4 linked regions of the Homo sapiens genome follow. The protein of the gene in region 2 purifies or fractionates together with the protein of the main gene of each other region. This does not show direct contact. Each region holds a gene or a part of one and is shown on either strand. Other genes may lie near its edges. The genes, in order: CCDC102A, KIAA1328, EDEM2 and TRIOBP.

The links.
Region 1: the proteins of KIAA1328 (region 2) and CCDC102A purify together in Homo sapiens (affinity purification with mass spectrometry; one large-scale study listed by BioGRID and IntAct). This does not show direct contact.
Region 3: the proteins of KIAA1328 (region 2) and EDEM2 purify together in Homo sapiens (affinity purification with mass spectrometry; one large-scale study listed by BioGRID and IntAct). This does not show direct contact.
Region 4: the proteins of KIAA1328 (region 2) and TRIOBP purify together in Homo sapiens (affinity purification with mass spectrometry; one large-scale study listed by BioGRID and IntAct). This does not show direct contact.

The regions. Positions count from the first base shown.
Region 1 is NC_000016.10:57,512,572-57,516,138, reverse strand, and holds part of CCDC102A (coiled-coil domain-containing protein 102A), read left to right. Parts: intron 1-694; coding exon 695-798; intron 799-3,268; coding exon 3,269-3,398; 3' UTR 3,399-3,567.
Region 2 is NC_000018.10:37,217,122-37,220,688, forward strand, and holds part of KIAA1328 (protein hinderin), read left to right. Parts: intron 1-3,567. UniProt on the Homo sapiens protein: Competes with SMC1 for binding to SMC3. May affect the availability of SMC3 to engage in the formation of multimeric protein complexes.
Region 3 is NC_000020.11:35,123,315-35,126,881, reverse strand, and holds part of EDEM2 (ER degradation-enhancing alpha-mannosidase-like protein 2 isoform 1 precursor), read left to right. Parts: intron 1-506; coding exon 507-631; intron 632-2,847; coding exon 2,848-2,992; intron 2,993-3,567. Other genes in the region: MMP24-AS1-EDEM2 (ER degradation-enhancing alpha-mannosidase-like protein 2), read left to right, coding at 507-631, 2,848-2,992. UniProt on the Homo sapiens protein: Involved in the endoplasmic reticulum-associated degradation (ERAD) pathway that targets misfolded glycoproteins for degradation in an N-glycan-dependent manner.
Region 4 is NC_000022.11:37,731,506-37,735,072, forward strand, and holds part of TRIOBP (TRIO and F-actin-binding protein), read left to right. Parts: intron 1-1,792; coding exon 1,793-1,907; intron 1,908-2,893; coding exon 2,894-3,567.

The sequences.
Region 1 (3,567 bases), on a different chromosome or scaffold from region 2:
TGAATGGATGGCAGGATGGACATGTGGGTGGGAAGATGGGAAGAAAAATGAACAGAAGACAAGATGGATGTGTGCATGGATGAACCAATGGGTAAAGGAATGAATGGATGGATGAATGGGAGAGAGAGGCAGGGCGGGCAGATGGATGGGTGGATCCAATGGATGTATGAACAGATGATGGCTGGATGGGTAGAGAGTGGACAGATGGATGGACAGCTGACTGGGTCAGTGGGTGGAAGAACGAATACAGAGGGAGAAAGAAGGCCAGGTTGACGGGAAGATAGGTGTGTCCGGGAGAGCAGGAAGGCATGGCTAGGCATGCTAGATGGGCTGCTGATTAGATTAATGGATGGGGAGTGGTGGGTGACTGTCTCCATGGGCAGATGAATATCTCCCTGGACGAATGGTCCGATGGACAGACTGATGGGGACAGAAGGATAGGAGGTGGATGGCTGCATCAGTAGTGCAGGGCCTGGGAGGATGGGTAGATGTGCAAGAGGAGGCAAAGGGGATGGAGAGGAACCAAAGGGATGCTTTTCTAGAAGAGGTAAGCCTTAGCCTAGGCCTCAAGGAGCAAACACTCTCGGAGGAGCACCTTCCCAGGGAACAGCAGGAGTGGTTTTCCCTGGGCGGGTGGCCGGCCTTGCCCAGCCCTGGGTGACCCTCGTGCTTTCGGCCCTGCTCACCCCCACAGCTGGACGAGGCCCACAACCAGGCACGTAAGCTGCAGCGGTCGCTGGACGAGCAGACGGAGCAGAGCGAGAACCTGCAAGTGCAACTGGAGCACCTGCAGTCCAGGTGGGCCCCGGGCAGGGAACAGAAACAGGGCAGAGACTTCCAGCCAGGGAACCCTCCGGTCAGGGACGGAGCCCAAACCAAGGCTGGAGGGGGAGACGAAGGAAGAGATCCAGGTGCCTGGAGCCAGAATCCTGTCCCCTCCGGGCAGGAAGGGCCAGAGCCAGGAAACCAGGGCAGGGGGTGCAGGAAGTCAGGCCAGCTGCAGGCCCTGGAATTGTCTCCTCTAGCAGGAGGGCTGGTGGGTAGAGTGAGGGCAGGAAGGGCGGGCTGGAGAGGTCAGGCCCAAGGCTTGGGGCAGTGGGTGGGGCCAGCAGGGCTCAAATAGGCAGCCCTCAGCGTTACTGGGCCCAGGTGACACCAAGACAGCAGGGATCTGAGAGACTGGTGAGCAGGGACTCGTGGAGGGGCCCCAGGCCTGGATCCCGTCCACTGCCAACAGGCCCCACCCAGCACACTCTGCCTCCCTCTCCCAACCCTGTCTCTGTCCCAGCACTCTGTGAATCACAGAACCAGGCGATATCAGAAAACTTCAGTCCACGTCCCTCCCACTTCACAGCTGGGAGGCCCAAGGAGCATCGGAGCCACAGCATTGACCTGTGCCGGGCCCTGAGAATGCACTTAGTTGCATTCTCTTCTTTCGTGGAATAGAGGGTGCCCGGTTCTGCAGCCAGACTGCCTGAATGGTCTGAAGCCTGGCTCAGCATTAGCAGCTGTGTGGCCTTGGGACATTTATTTAACCTCTCTGTGTCAGTTTCTTCATCTGTAAAATGGGGATGATGATAGTTCTTACCTCTTGATTGTTGTGAGTATTAAATGAGCTGATCCATTCTTAAGAAAGTACCTGGAGGCATGGTAGCTCACACCTGTAATCCCAACAGTTTGGAAGGCCAGGGCAAGAGGATTGCTTGAGACCAGGAGTTTGAGACCCCCTGGGCAACAAAGCAAGACCCCCATGTCTACAAAAAATACAAAACTTAGCCAGGCATGGTGGTGTGTGCCTGTAGTTCCAGCTACTTGGGAGACCGAGGCAGGAGGATCACTTGAGCTCAGGAGTTCATAGCTATAGTAGTGAGCTGTGATCACACCACGGTACTCCAGCCTGGGAGACAAAGTGAGATCCCGTCTCTAAGAAAAAAAGAAAGAAAACACCTGGCACATAATAAATGCTGAGTGATTGTCAGCAGCTGCTGCTATTACTACTGTTACTACTACCGCTGCGGAGGGGCTTATATTTGGGTTACATGTTGTGCATCAGCATCACGCTGCTTCTATGAGAGAAAGGAAAGATGTTTTTTCCTAGGGGGCTGGCAGATGAGGAAACTAAGGCCCAAGAGGGTAAGTCTTTCCATGGCCACACAGTTGGTGGGTGGCCAGGCAGAATCACCCCTGGCCATCAGCCATCCAAGCCCTTATTTATTGAGCATTTACTATATGCTGCTGTTTGCTGAGATCTTGTGGCTTAGAGAATGGGCTGCAGAGACCTAACAGCTATTGTGCCATGGTAAACTGAGCCTCGATTTCCCCATCTGCCTGGGATGACGCCCATAAAGTGTTGTGCAGGGGCCCAGGCGTGGGCCCAAGTCAGGACCCATGCCTGGCTGGCTCTGCCTGCTCTGACCCTGCAGCACACACCCTTCAAAAGACCACTTAGCCTTGGGGCTTTCCCGCAGTCTGGGTCACATTGTTCAGGAGCCATAAACTCCAGAAGTGGGCAGGCAGGCCCTGCTGGGCCTCTCAAGTGCTTCCATCGGGGAGGGTGGGGCCACCCAGGACCGCTGTGTCGTTTTATTTTCCAACTTTTTGTGCTTTAATGTTCCGGGGACAGCTCACTAAATCACTGTGCAGTAATGGAGGCCCCCGCCTGTGCCCCTCCCTTACGTGTTAATAATTCATGTCTTCCAGTAAGATGCAGCCGGGGCGGCCACTTTGCTGGGGGGTTGGGGGAGGGATCGGCATTTCCTTCACCAGCTCTTCTTAGACTCAAAGTTTTCCTCGTAAATTTTGACTTTAGGAATTTTAATGTGAGGAAGAACTAGGGCTGAGCCCTTTCTCACTGACACTGGGAATGTAGAGGGCTCAGCCCACCCTGCACTGTCACACCAACCAACTCTGCTGCCTGTGCTCTGAGAGCCAGGCTTGGGTTCAAATCCTGCAGCATGACCTTGAGCCAGCTCCTTCACCTCTCTAACCGCCCAGCTGCTCTGGCACCACCCACTTCAGTTCAGAGCTCTGCCCCACTCCCCACCATCTGTGTGACTTTGAGCAAATGACTTCACCTTTCTGTGCCTCGGTTTCCTTGCTTGTAAAATGGGGGTGATAATGGCACTTCTATCATATAAGGAGATTACAGGAGATGAGACAGCAGGGAAAGCACCAGGGAAGGCTTAACTGCTCCAGCACCAGCTGCAGCCACCTTATCGGGGGACTACCAGCCAGGCTGCTCTAACCTCCTGTCACCCCCACCCCACAGGCTCCGCAGGCAGCAGCAGAACGCTCCCCTCTTCGGGAAGATCCGCAGTGCTCGCTTTGGCACCGAGGAGGCCGAGGATGGAACCAGTGACCTGGACGAGGACGAGGACCTGCAAATCCAGGTGGCCTAGAGCTTCCTGTGGCTGGGCAGGATGGGCCGCCCCATACCTGCCCAGGGTCCAGGCTAACCAGCCACTCAAACTGATGCAGTGCCTAGGCTCACTCTGGGACCAGTCCCTGCCACAGCCGACTTTCTTCTCTCCCAGGGATGGCGTCAACAGTCCCACCTACCAACGCCCT
Region 2 (3,567 bases):
AATTTGCCAGTCTGTGTCTTTTAATTGGGGCATTTAGCCCATTTACATTTAAGGTTAATATTGTTATGTGTGAATTCAATCCTGTCATTATGATGTTAGCTGGTTATTTTGCTCGTAGTTGATGCAGTTTCCTCCTAGCATCGATGGTCTTTACAATTTGGCATGTTTTTGCGGTGGCTGGTACCGGTTGTTCCTTTCCATGTTTAGTGCTTCCTTCAGGAGCTCTTGTAAGGCAGGCCTGGTGGTGACAAAATCTCTCAGCATTTGCTTATCTATAAAGGATTTTATTTTGCCTTTACTAATGAAGCTTAGTTTGGCTGGATATGAAATTCTGGGTTGAAAATTCTTTTCTTTAAGAATGTTGAATATTGGCCCCCACTCTCTTCTGGCTTGTAGAGTTTCTGCCGAGAGATCAGCTGTTAGTCCAATGGGCTTCCCTTTGTGGGTAACCTGACCTTTCTCTCTGGCTGCCCTTAACATTTTTTGCTTCATTTCAACCTTGGTGAATCTGACAATTATGTGTCTTGGGGTTGCTCTTCTCAAGGAGTATCTTTGTGGTGTTCTCTGTATTTCCTGAATTTGAATGTTGGCCTGCCTTGCTAGATTGGGGAAATTCACCTGCATAATATCCTGAAGAGTGTTTTCCAGCTTGGTTCCATTCTCCCTGTCACTTTCAGGTACACCAATCAAACGTAGATTTGGTCTTTTCACATAGTCTCATATTTCTTGGAGGCTTTGTTCGTTTCTTTTTACTCTTTTTTCTCTAAACTTCTTGCTTCATTTCATTTGTTATAGCCACAGGAGTTAGAGAAAATGCCACACTTTGAGACAAATTAAGAGTCCTTTATTTAAGCCGGCGGCCAAAGAGATGGCTAATGCTCAAAATTCTCTTGGCCCCGATGAAGGGGCTTAACTTTTATACCTAGGTTTAGGAAGGGGAGGGGGACTTAAATGCAATAACTCTACAGAAGTAAAAACATGCAAGAATCAAAAGAAGCAAATGGTTACAGAGAAATGAACAATTTAAAAGACAAATGGTTACAAAAAGAGCAAGGGTACCAGGTGCAAGGCTCTAAATCCTTCATTATAGTTAGATATAAATGCTATGCCAGACAGGAACTCAAGGCTTTGTGTTGTTATCTCTTTGAGCAAAACCCTGGGAACTTCATACATTGTTTGCTCCAGTATCTTACCAGTTAATTGGGCTCCTTTGAAATGCTGAGGATCTGCTTACACAGGTTAACTCCTTAAGGAAGGGGGTTGGGTAAGGAGCCCTTAATGTCTTGTAAATCAAGAGGTCAAATGGAGTTTGTCCGGCTTTCCCAGCCAGGGAGAGTGTATTCATATGGGAAACATGGCTGGCAATTAAGGAGACAAAAAAAGGAAAATTTAAAGTAGTGAGCTAGAGTAAAAAACAAGGTTAGGCGTTACACATTCATTTGATCTTCAGTCACTGATACCCTTTCTTCCACTCGATGGAATCAGCTTCTGAAGCTTATGCATGCGTCACGTAGTTCTCCTGCCATGGTTTTCAGCTCCATCAGGTCATTTAAGGTCTTCTCTACACTGTTTATTCTAGTTAGCCATTCGTCTAATCTTTTTTCAAGGTTTTTAGCTTCCTTGAGATGGGTTCATACATCCTCCTTTAGCTTGGAGAATTTTGTTATTTCCAACCTTCTGAAGCCTACTTCTGTCAACTTGTCAAAGTTATTCTCTGTCCAGCTTTGTTCCATTGCTGGCGAGGAGCTGTGATCCTTTGGAGAAGAGGCACTCTGGTTTTTAGAATTGTCAGCTTTTCTGCTCTGGTTTCTCCCCATCTTTGTGGTTTTATCTACCTTTGATCTCTGATGATGGTGACCTACAGATGGGGTTTTGGTGTTGATGTCCTTTTTGTTGATGTTGATGCTATTCCTTTCTGTTTGTTAGTTTTCCTTCTAACAGTCAGGTGTCTCAGCTGCAGGTCTGTTAGAGTTTGCTGGAGGTCCACTCCAGACCCTGTTTGCCTGGGTGTCACCAGCAGATGGCTGCAGAACCGCAAATATTGCAGAACTGCAATATTGCTGCCTGATCCTTCCTCTGGAAGCTTCATCTCAAGGGGCACCCAGCTGTATGAGGTGTCAGTCGGCCCCTACTGGGAGGTGTCTCCCAGTTAGGCTACACAGGGGTCAGGGACCCACTTGAGGCAGTCTGTCCGTTCTCAGAGGTCAAACACCATGCTGGGAAAACCACTGCTCTCTTCAGAGCTGTCAGGGATGTTTAAGTCTGCAGAAGTTCCTGCTGCCTTCTGTTCAGCTCTGCCCTTCCCCCAGAGGTGGAGTCTACAGAGGCAGGCAGGCCTCGTTGACCTGCGGTGGGCTCCACCCAGTTTGAGCCTCCTGGCTGCTTTGTTTACCTACTGAAGCCTCAGCAATGGCAGATGCCCCTACCCCTGCCAGGCTGCTGTCTCGCGGGTCGATCTCAGACTGCTGCACTAACAGTGAGCAAGCCTCCGTGGGCATGGGACCTACTGAGCCAGGTGTGGTTTATAATCTTCTGGTGTGCCATTTGCTAAGACTGTTGGAAAAGCGCAGTGTTTGGGTGGCAGTGTCCCTATTTTCCAGGTACTGCCTGTCATGGCTTCCCTTGGCTAGGAAAGGGAAGTCCCCCGACCCCTTGCGCTTCCTGGGTGAGGTGATGCCCCACCTTGCTTCGGCTTGCCCTCTGTGGGCTGCACCCACTGTCCATCCAGTCCCAATGAGATGAACCAGGTACCTCAGCTGGAAATGCAGAAATCACCCATCTTCTTTGTCGATCACACTGGGAGCTGCAGACTGGTGCTGTTCCTATTCAGCCATCTTGGAACTGTATCCCCCAATTTTTTCTAATTTTTAATTTTGAGGAGGATCTTTCTGTTGATGCAACTGACAGTGGAGCTGCTAAGAGTATTTTGTAGGCTGTGCCAACATTTGCATAGATTTCTAATAAAGTATTTCCAAATATGAATTTTAGTTTATATAGAGGTGATTATTCTTGGGGATCAGATTTTCTAAAAAGATTTAACTCTTCATACACATTAGTTTCATACATGTTGGAATTTAATTTTAAATACAAATCTCTATGATGTCATTTTAATGTTTTCTCTAGCATGTTCTGTAACATATAAAGATCATATAAGAAACCAAAAATCACTTAATGATTTGTCTATAATTCACAGTGCTTGTTTATGCTTTCTATAGCAGCATCTTCAGTTACAAAGAAAAATTAAATTTAAAAATTGTATTCCTCATTAATAATTGGTTCATTAGAAATTGCATATGAGAATAGTGGGTTTTTTCCTATCAAATGCAACAATCTTTAATTTTTATTTCCAAACCTGTGGATGTTCGCTTTCCAGTGTTGTAGCAGTTTTTAAAACCAGAGATTCTAAACTCTTTGAAGGCTTCTAATATATCTCTGATATGCTTCATTGTAATGTCCACGTGTATGTTTTTATTTTCTAATAATTTACTGGCATTTATACTTAATGCTAGCAGTTCCTATCCCAGTTCTCAGGCCAGAAAGATGACATTTTTGCCACAGGGATGGGCT
Region 3 (3,567 bases), on a different chromosome or scaffold from region 2:
GGAGTGCAATGGTGCGATCTCAGCTCACAGCAACCTCCGCCTCCTGGGTTCAAGCAATTCTCCTTCCTCAGCCTCCCAAGTAGCTGAGATTACAGGCATGCACCACCACACCTGGCTAATTTTGTATTTTTAGTAGAGACAGGGTTTCTCCGTGTTGGTCAGGCTGGTCTCGAACTCCCAATCTCAGGTGATCCGCCCACCTCGGCCTCCCAAAGTGCTGGGATTATAGATGTGAGCCACCACGCCTGGCCTCCCCATTTTATAGATCATAAGGCTGAGGCTTAAAAGGGAAAAACCCACCCCAGGTCACGGTTAGCAAGTGGTAGAGCTGGAGCTGGAATTTGAGCTGGAAGTTTGACTCCAGAATCCATGCTCTTGTCTAGCCTCCTTGCCTCATTGCATCCTGGTGCTCTTTCCAAAGTGTAAGTTCTCGCTTCCGCTGTCCAGGCCTGCCTTTTTTCTCCCTAATCACTCATATGTCCATTATCCCATCTCCCCCACTGCAGAGTATAACAAAGCCATCCGGAACTACACCCGCTTCGATGACTGGTACCTGTGGGTTCAGATGTACAAGGGGACTGTGTCCATGCCAGTCTTCCAGTCCTTGGAGGCCTACTGGCCTGGTCTTCAGGTAGGAATGATCAAAGAATGTGATCATCTTTCTATGAGTCTGGCAAAGCAAGCTCATTCTGATGTATAAGTCAAATAATGTACTTTGTTAATTGCTTGAGTACTTTTTTTGGAGGGACAGGTTGAGGATGGAAGAGAGACCTAGAGTGAATTAGATAGATTTAGAGTTCTGCCAAATTGAGTGTCAGGAACTGAGCTTCCAGTTTGCCATGGAGTGTTACAGTACTTAAAGTCGACAGTGCATTTCCAGTCTGGGCAGGAATGGCCATTGGCAACAGGTGTTTCTCCACTGGGCGTTTCTGTCCAATCTCATTCTTGACAGTGGGCCTCAGGAAGGGCAGGAAGCAGCTTGTGCCGCTGTGCCATCTCGTTGTTTTTCCATTACATGGTCTGGTAGAGTTGCAGCTGGAAGGATCTTAGAGCTTATCTAATCTACCCCACTTTGGTGTTCCAAAATAGTGCATGTACCAAAATGTTTTTATAATCTACGTTTTTAAAAGTTTTAAGAAAAAGTAGTCCCACCTGGGCAACATAGTGAGACCTCATCTCTACAAAAAATAAAAAATTAGGTCGGGCGCGGTGGCTCAGGCCTATAATCCCAGCGCTTTGGCAGGCCGAGGCAGGCGGATCACAAGGTTAGGAGATTGAGACCATCCTGGCTAACACGGTGAAACCCCATCTCTACTAAAAATACAAAAAATTAGCTGGGCGTGGTGGTGGGCGCCTGTAGTCCCAGCTACTCGGGAGGCTGAGGCAGGAGAATGGCATGAACCTGGGAGGCGGAGCTTGCAGTGAGCTGAGATTGCGCCACTGCACTCCAGCCTGGATGACAGAGCAAGACTCCGTCTCAAAAAAATAAAAATAAATAAATAAAAATAAAAATAAAAAATTAGCCTAGGGTGGTGGCACATGCCTGTAGTCCCAGCTACTCAGGAGACTGCAGTGGAAGGATTGCTTGAACCCAGAAGATCAAGGCTGCAGTGAGCCATGATCATGCCATTGCAGCCTGGGTGACAGAGTGAGACCCTGTCTCAAAAAAAAAAAAAAAAAGTGGCCACCGGGTTTCTATCCAGAATAACCAGGTAGACATTGTGTCATTTACCAAGAAGGGAAAAAGGCCAAAGTAGGGAGGCAATTTCGTGGGAAAGTAAGGGAACCAAGAATTTTGTTTAGGAAGTGCCAAGTTTGTTCTGTCCATGAGACATCCAATGAAGATGTCAGGGTCAGCTGCTTCCCTGTGAGATTACATTAATAGTAATGGCTACTTAGCAATAGTGGTAAAATTATAAATGCATATATCCTTTGACCCAGTGATCCTAATTCTGAAAATGTATCTTACACATAACATTTTACATCTATTTGATGTGACATATATACAGAATTATTTATTGCCACATTAGTTGTTGGAACCAATTCAAATAAAAATATCTGAAAGCCAAATTTCCATATCTAAAAATATGGAGATAATTAATATCCCTATTAATAAAGAACCAAAGGCTATTTTTTAGTGTGGGGAAAATAACATATACTCATGCATAAAGAAACTCTGAAAGGTTATACAAGAAACCAGTAATGTTTATCTGAGGCCAGGCAAGATGGGTGATGGTTGTAATCCCAGCACTTTGGAAGGCTGAGGTAGGAGGATCACTTGAGCCCAGGAGATTAAGACCAGCCTGGGCAACAAAGTGAGACCCCCATCTCTACAGAAAATAAAAAAATTAGCACTGGGAGGCTGAGGTGAGAGGATCTCTTGAGCCCAGGAGGTCAAGGCTGTAATGAACCGTGATTGTGCCACTGCACTCCAGCCTAGGTGACAGAGCGAGACCCTGTCTCAAAAACAAAAACAAAAATGGTTATCTTTTGGGGGTGTGGTGTGGGAGTGAGCCTTAGCACAAACTTTTCTCTATTCTTAGAATTTTTAACTGGCTGGCCGAATTCCAAAACTGTTAGCTGACATTGACTCTGAAGATTTAGGGACTTAATATACAATCTTTGTTCCTTCCAACAATGCATGAGATAGGTGGTGTATTTTACGTTTTATAGATGGGGCTCAGAGAAGTCCAGTGCCTGGCTCAGCACCACACTGAGTAACTGGCAGACTCAGGGATTGATTCAAGGCCTTTTTGGCCCCACAGATTTTACTTTGTCTTTTCTTAAGGTTGTCTGTGGGGTTTTATGCCTGGTGTCTACCTGCCTGACAGCCACTTTCTCCCACAGAGCCTCATTGGAGACATTGACAATGCCATGAGGACCTTCCTCAACTACTACACTGTATGGAAGCAGTTTGGGGGGCTCCCGGAATTCTACAACATTCCTCAGGGATACACAGTGGAGAAGCGAGAGGGCTACCCACTTCGGCCAGGTGAGCAGCATTTCTGGCTTGTCATCTGCCCACAGGCTCTGGTTGCTGAAACCCCAAATCCCCTCTACAAGGCTCCATCCTCCACAACTGCCCACAAGTTCATTTCTTTCCATCTGTTCCTTTCAGTGGCTCTGGGTGGTTTTCTTACTAGGAGTTAATTATCCCCATGTTTTCAGATATGGAAACTGAGGCCTAGTGGGATGAAATGGCTCGCCTCTGGCTCTTAAGTGCAGGAGCTAGGCCTGGAACCCAGGGCTCCTAACTAAATTGCATGCTCTTTTTTATTTTTATTTTTTTGAGATGGAGTTTCGCTATTGTTGCCCAGACTGAAGTGCAATGGTGTGATCTCGGCTCACCGCAACCTCCGCCTCCTGGGTTCAAGCGATTCTCCTGCCTCAGCCTCCCGAGTAGCTGGGATTACAGGCATGAGCCACCATGCCCAGCTAATTTTGTATTTTTAGTAGAGATGGAGTTTCTCCATGTTGGTCAGGCTGGTCTTGAACTCCCAGCCTCAGGTGATCCGCCCACCTTGGCCTCCCAAAGTGCTGGGATTACAGATGTGAGCCACTGCGACT
Region 4 (3,567 bases), on a different chromosome or scaffold from region 2:
GAGTGCAGTGGCGCGATCTCAGCTCACTGCAACCTCCACCTCCTGGGGTCAAGCGATCCTCCTGCCTCAGCCTCCTGAGTAGCTGGGATTACAGGCACGTGCCACCACGCCTGGCTAAGTTTTGTATTTTTAGTAGAGATTGGGTTTCACTATGTTGACCAGGCTGGTCTCGAACTCCTGACCTCAAGTGATCCACCCACCTCAGCCTCCCAAAGTGCTGTGATTAGAGGCATGAGCCACCACACCTGGGCTAATTTTTGTATTTTTAGAGACTAGGTTTCACTATGTTGTCTAGGCTGGTCTTGAACTCCTGAGCTCAAGCCATCCGCCTGCCTCAGCCTCCCAAAGTTCTGGGATTACAGGCGTGACCCATTGCGCCCTGCCCAATCCCATACTTTTGAAGGTGTCGTTCCAGCATGGCTCCTCAGGCACAGGCCCACCACAGACAGCAGGGCCTATGGAGGCCTGAGCAGAGTTTCCTCATACTTCCCTTTTTGCTGCCTCACTCTGGGTCCACCACAGGGTGGCCTTTTTCAGGCTTCTCTTCCTGGTTCAGTTCATCGACCAAAGACATGGCTCCATTTGCTAACTGAGACCCAACCAAAATAAACATTCATGGAGTGGTTGGGCCTTTTGTTGTGACCCCTTAGGTAGAGGAAGGGAGAGATATGCCCAGGTTCTGTTTGGTGTTTCTACCTGTCAATAGAGATACCACGTTAATCATTAACAGCCATGCCTCCCAGTTAGTAAGCAAGACAACTAACTGGAACTAGACTTTTTACACAAGTTAGAGATGATCTTCATCGGATGCGTCAACAATGCCTGAAGCCCAGTGTCTTAGAAACAACACTTGCCCAGGGTCAGGCGTGGTGGCTCATGCCTGTAATCCCAGCTACTTGGGAGATTAAGGCAGAGAATCACTTGAACCCGGGAGATGGAAGTTGCAGTGAGCCGAGATCGCGCCACTGCACTCCAGCCTGGGTGACAGAGCGAGACTCCATCTCAAAAAAAAAAAAAAAAAAAAGACACTTGCTTGGACAGTTTATGTTGGCCTCTCTGAAGTTGTCAGGGAGAATGTTTCTTTCTTCTGATCTTGCTCAGAGCTCTTTTGCCAACAGCTAGGATGGCCTGGAGTTTTCAAGGCTAAGCGCTGGGATTCTGTTGGTTAACAGTGATGGGAGGGAAAAAGGAAAAGAAATCCAAAATTTACAATATGGACAGGAAAAGGCAGAAAGAATGGAACACGGGGGCACACAGCAGTCTGGCTCTGTCGTCCCACCTCGTGGGCTGCGATCATGATACAAGTGCTTGGCCCCTGGAACATAAGAAGCACTCAATAAATGCTTTGTCATAATGATTATGTGTGCCCAGTGCCTGGTACACAGTAGGTGCTCAATAAATCTTAATTCCCGCAAAGACCAGTCTAACCTTTGTCTGGGGGTGGCTCTTGGGCTGCTGGTGGGGTGGTGGTTAGTCATAGGAAGTACTGGATGAGACAGGAGAGGGCCATGGCCAGGGCCAGATCCCCCTCCCCACCCAACCGCCTCTACTCCCCACTTTTCTCGTCATGTTCGCAAGAGCCTCATGAGGCAGAATAGAGCAGTGTTAACCATCCCCATTTTTCAGAAGGGGAAACTAAGGCCCTGAGAGTCATCCTCACTTAGGGCCCTTCAACGAGCTTGCAGTGGGTCCCTGGCTGTCCCACATCTCCTCCTGTTGGAGGTGGGAGCAGAGGGGCTGGGGTGCTGGGAGTGGGACAGTCCCTCAGAGGAGTGGCTGCATTTGCTCATAGGAAGTCCGAGGCAGCGGGGGCCTTCCAGGCCCAGGACGAGGGACGGTCACAGCAGCCCAGCCAAGGCCAGAGCCAACTTCTCCGAAGACAGTCCAGCCCTGCCCCCAGCAGGCAGGTGAGCACTGCCAGCTGTCTGGGGCCCCGCACCCCAAGGGGCGGCCACTGCCTCTTCCCTCCCGCTAGAAGCCAGGCAGGGGGCTTGGACAGGAAGGTCCTCTATGAAAGGGTCGGAGTCCAATCATGGGGATCCAGCTCTCCCCTCTCCCCAACGGCCAGCAGCTCTTGGCAAAATGCACAAGACCCCACATTAATCCTTTGAAGATAGCCCCTCTCCCACGCTATCCCCTTCCTTTACTAAGCACTGCTGTCTTTTTTTTTTTTTTTTTTTTTTGAGATGGAGTCTTGCACTGTCTCCCAGGCTGGAGTGCAGTGGGACAATATTGGCTCACTGCAACCTCTGCCTCCCAGGTTCAAGTGATTCTTCTACCTCAGCCTCCCAAATAGCTGGGATTACAGGCGTGTGCCACCACACCCAACTAATTTTCGTACTTTTAGTAGAGACAGGGTTTCACCATGTTGGCCAGGCTGGTCACTCCTGACGTCAAGTGATCCGCCCACCTTGGCCTCCCAAGGTGCTGGGATTACAGGCGTGAACCACGGCACCTGGCCAATACTGCTGTCTTGAGCAGATTTCAGGGAAAGCCTTGAAGCAAGAATCTGGCTCTAAGGGCCCTCTCTTTCAGGGTAATTTGTATCTTTAACCAAACCCAGAGGGCTAGGCCCGCCTCAGTGGAATGGGGTATTGGTGGTGGAGGTTCTGGCACCTGATAGCCCAAGTTGGAATCAGTATCTTTGAGAGGGGTGAGAAGCCAAGAACGGGGGCAGGTCTTTGCAGATCTTTTTCTGGAACTGAGGAAAGCGGGTGAAAGGGAGGAGCTGACCCCGGAGGGGTGGGGCAGAGACCCTGTGTACTTTTTGGCCTGCTTTGATTCAGGCTGCTGTGTGGACACAGCCTTGACTCTCTGGGGGCCTAAGAAAGGCAGAGCTGGCAGCCAGGTCCCCAGAGAGAGAGCCTCACCTACCCCCTCACCTCATCCCCAGGTGACCATGCTCCCTGCCAAACAGGCAGAACTGACCCGGCGGAGCCAAGCAGAGCCCCCTCATCCTTGGAGTCCTGAGAAGAGACCTGAGGGAGATCGGCAGCTCCAGGGGTCCCCGCTGCCCCCCAGGACATCAGCCAGGACCCCTGAGAGGGAGCTGCGGACACAGAGACCTCTGGAGAGTGGCCAAGCAGGCCCAAGACAGCCTCTGGGGGTGTGGCAGAGTCAGGAGGAACCGCCAGGGTCCCAGGGCCCTCATAGACACCTAGAAAGGAGCTGGAGCAGCCAGGAGGGAGGCCTGGGCCCTGGGGGCTGGTGGGGATGTGGAGAGCCCAGCCTGGGGGCAGCCAAAGCCCCGGAGGGAGCATGGGGGGGCACTTCCAGGGAGTACAAGGAGAGCTGGGGGCAGCCAGAGGCCTGGGAGGAGAAGCCCACTCATGAGCTCCCCAGAGAACTAGGAAAGAGAAGCCCACTCACGAGCCCCCCTGAGAACTGGGGAGGCCCCGCAGAGTCCTCACAATCCTGGCACTCTGGGACACCCACTGCTGTGGGCTGGGGGGCAGAGGGAGCGTGTCCATACCCGCGTGGCTCTGAGAGGCGACCCGAGCTTGACTGGAGGGATCTGCTTGGCCTTCTCCGGGCACCAGGAGAGGGGGTCTGGGCCCGTGTCCCCAG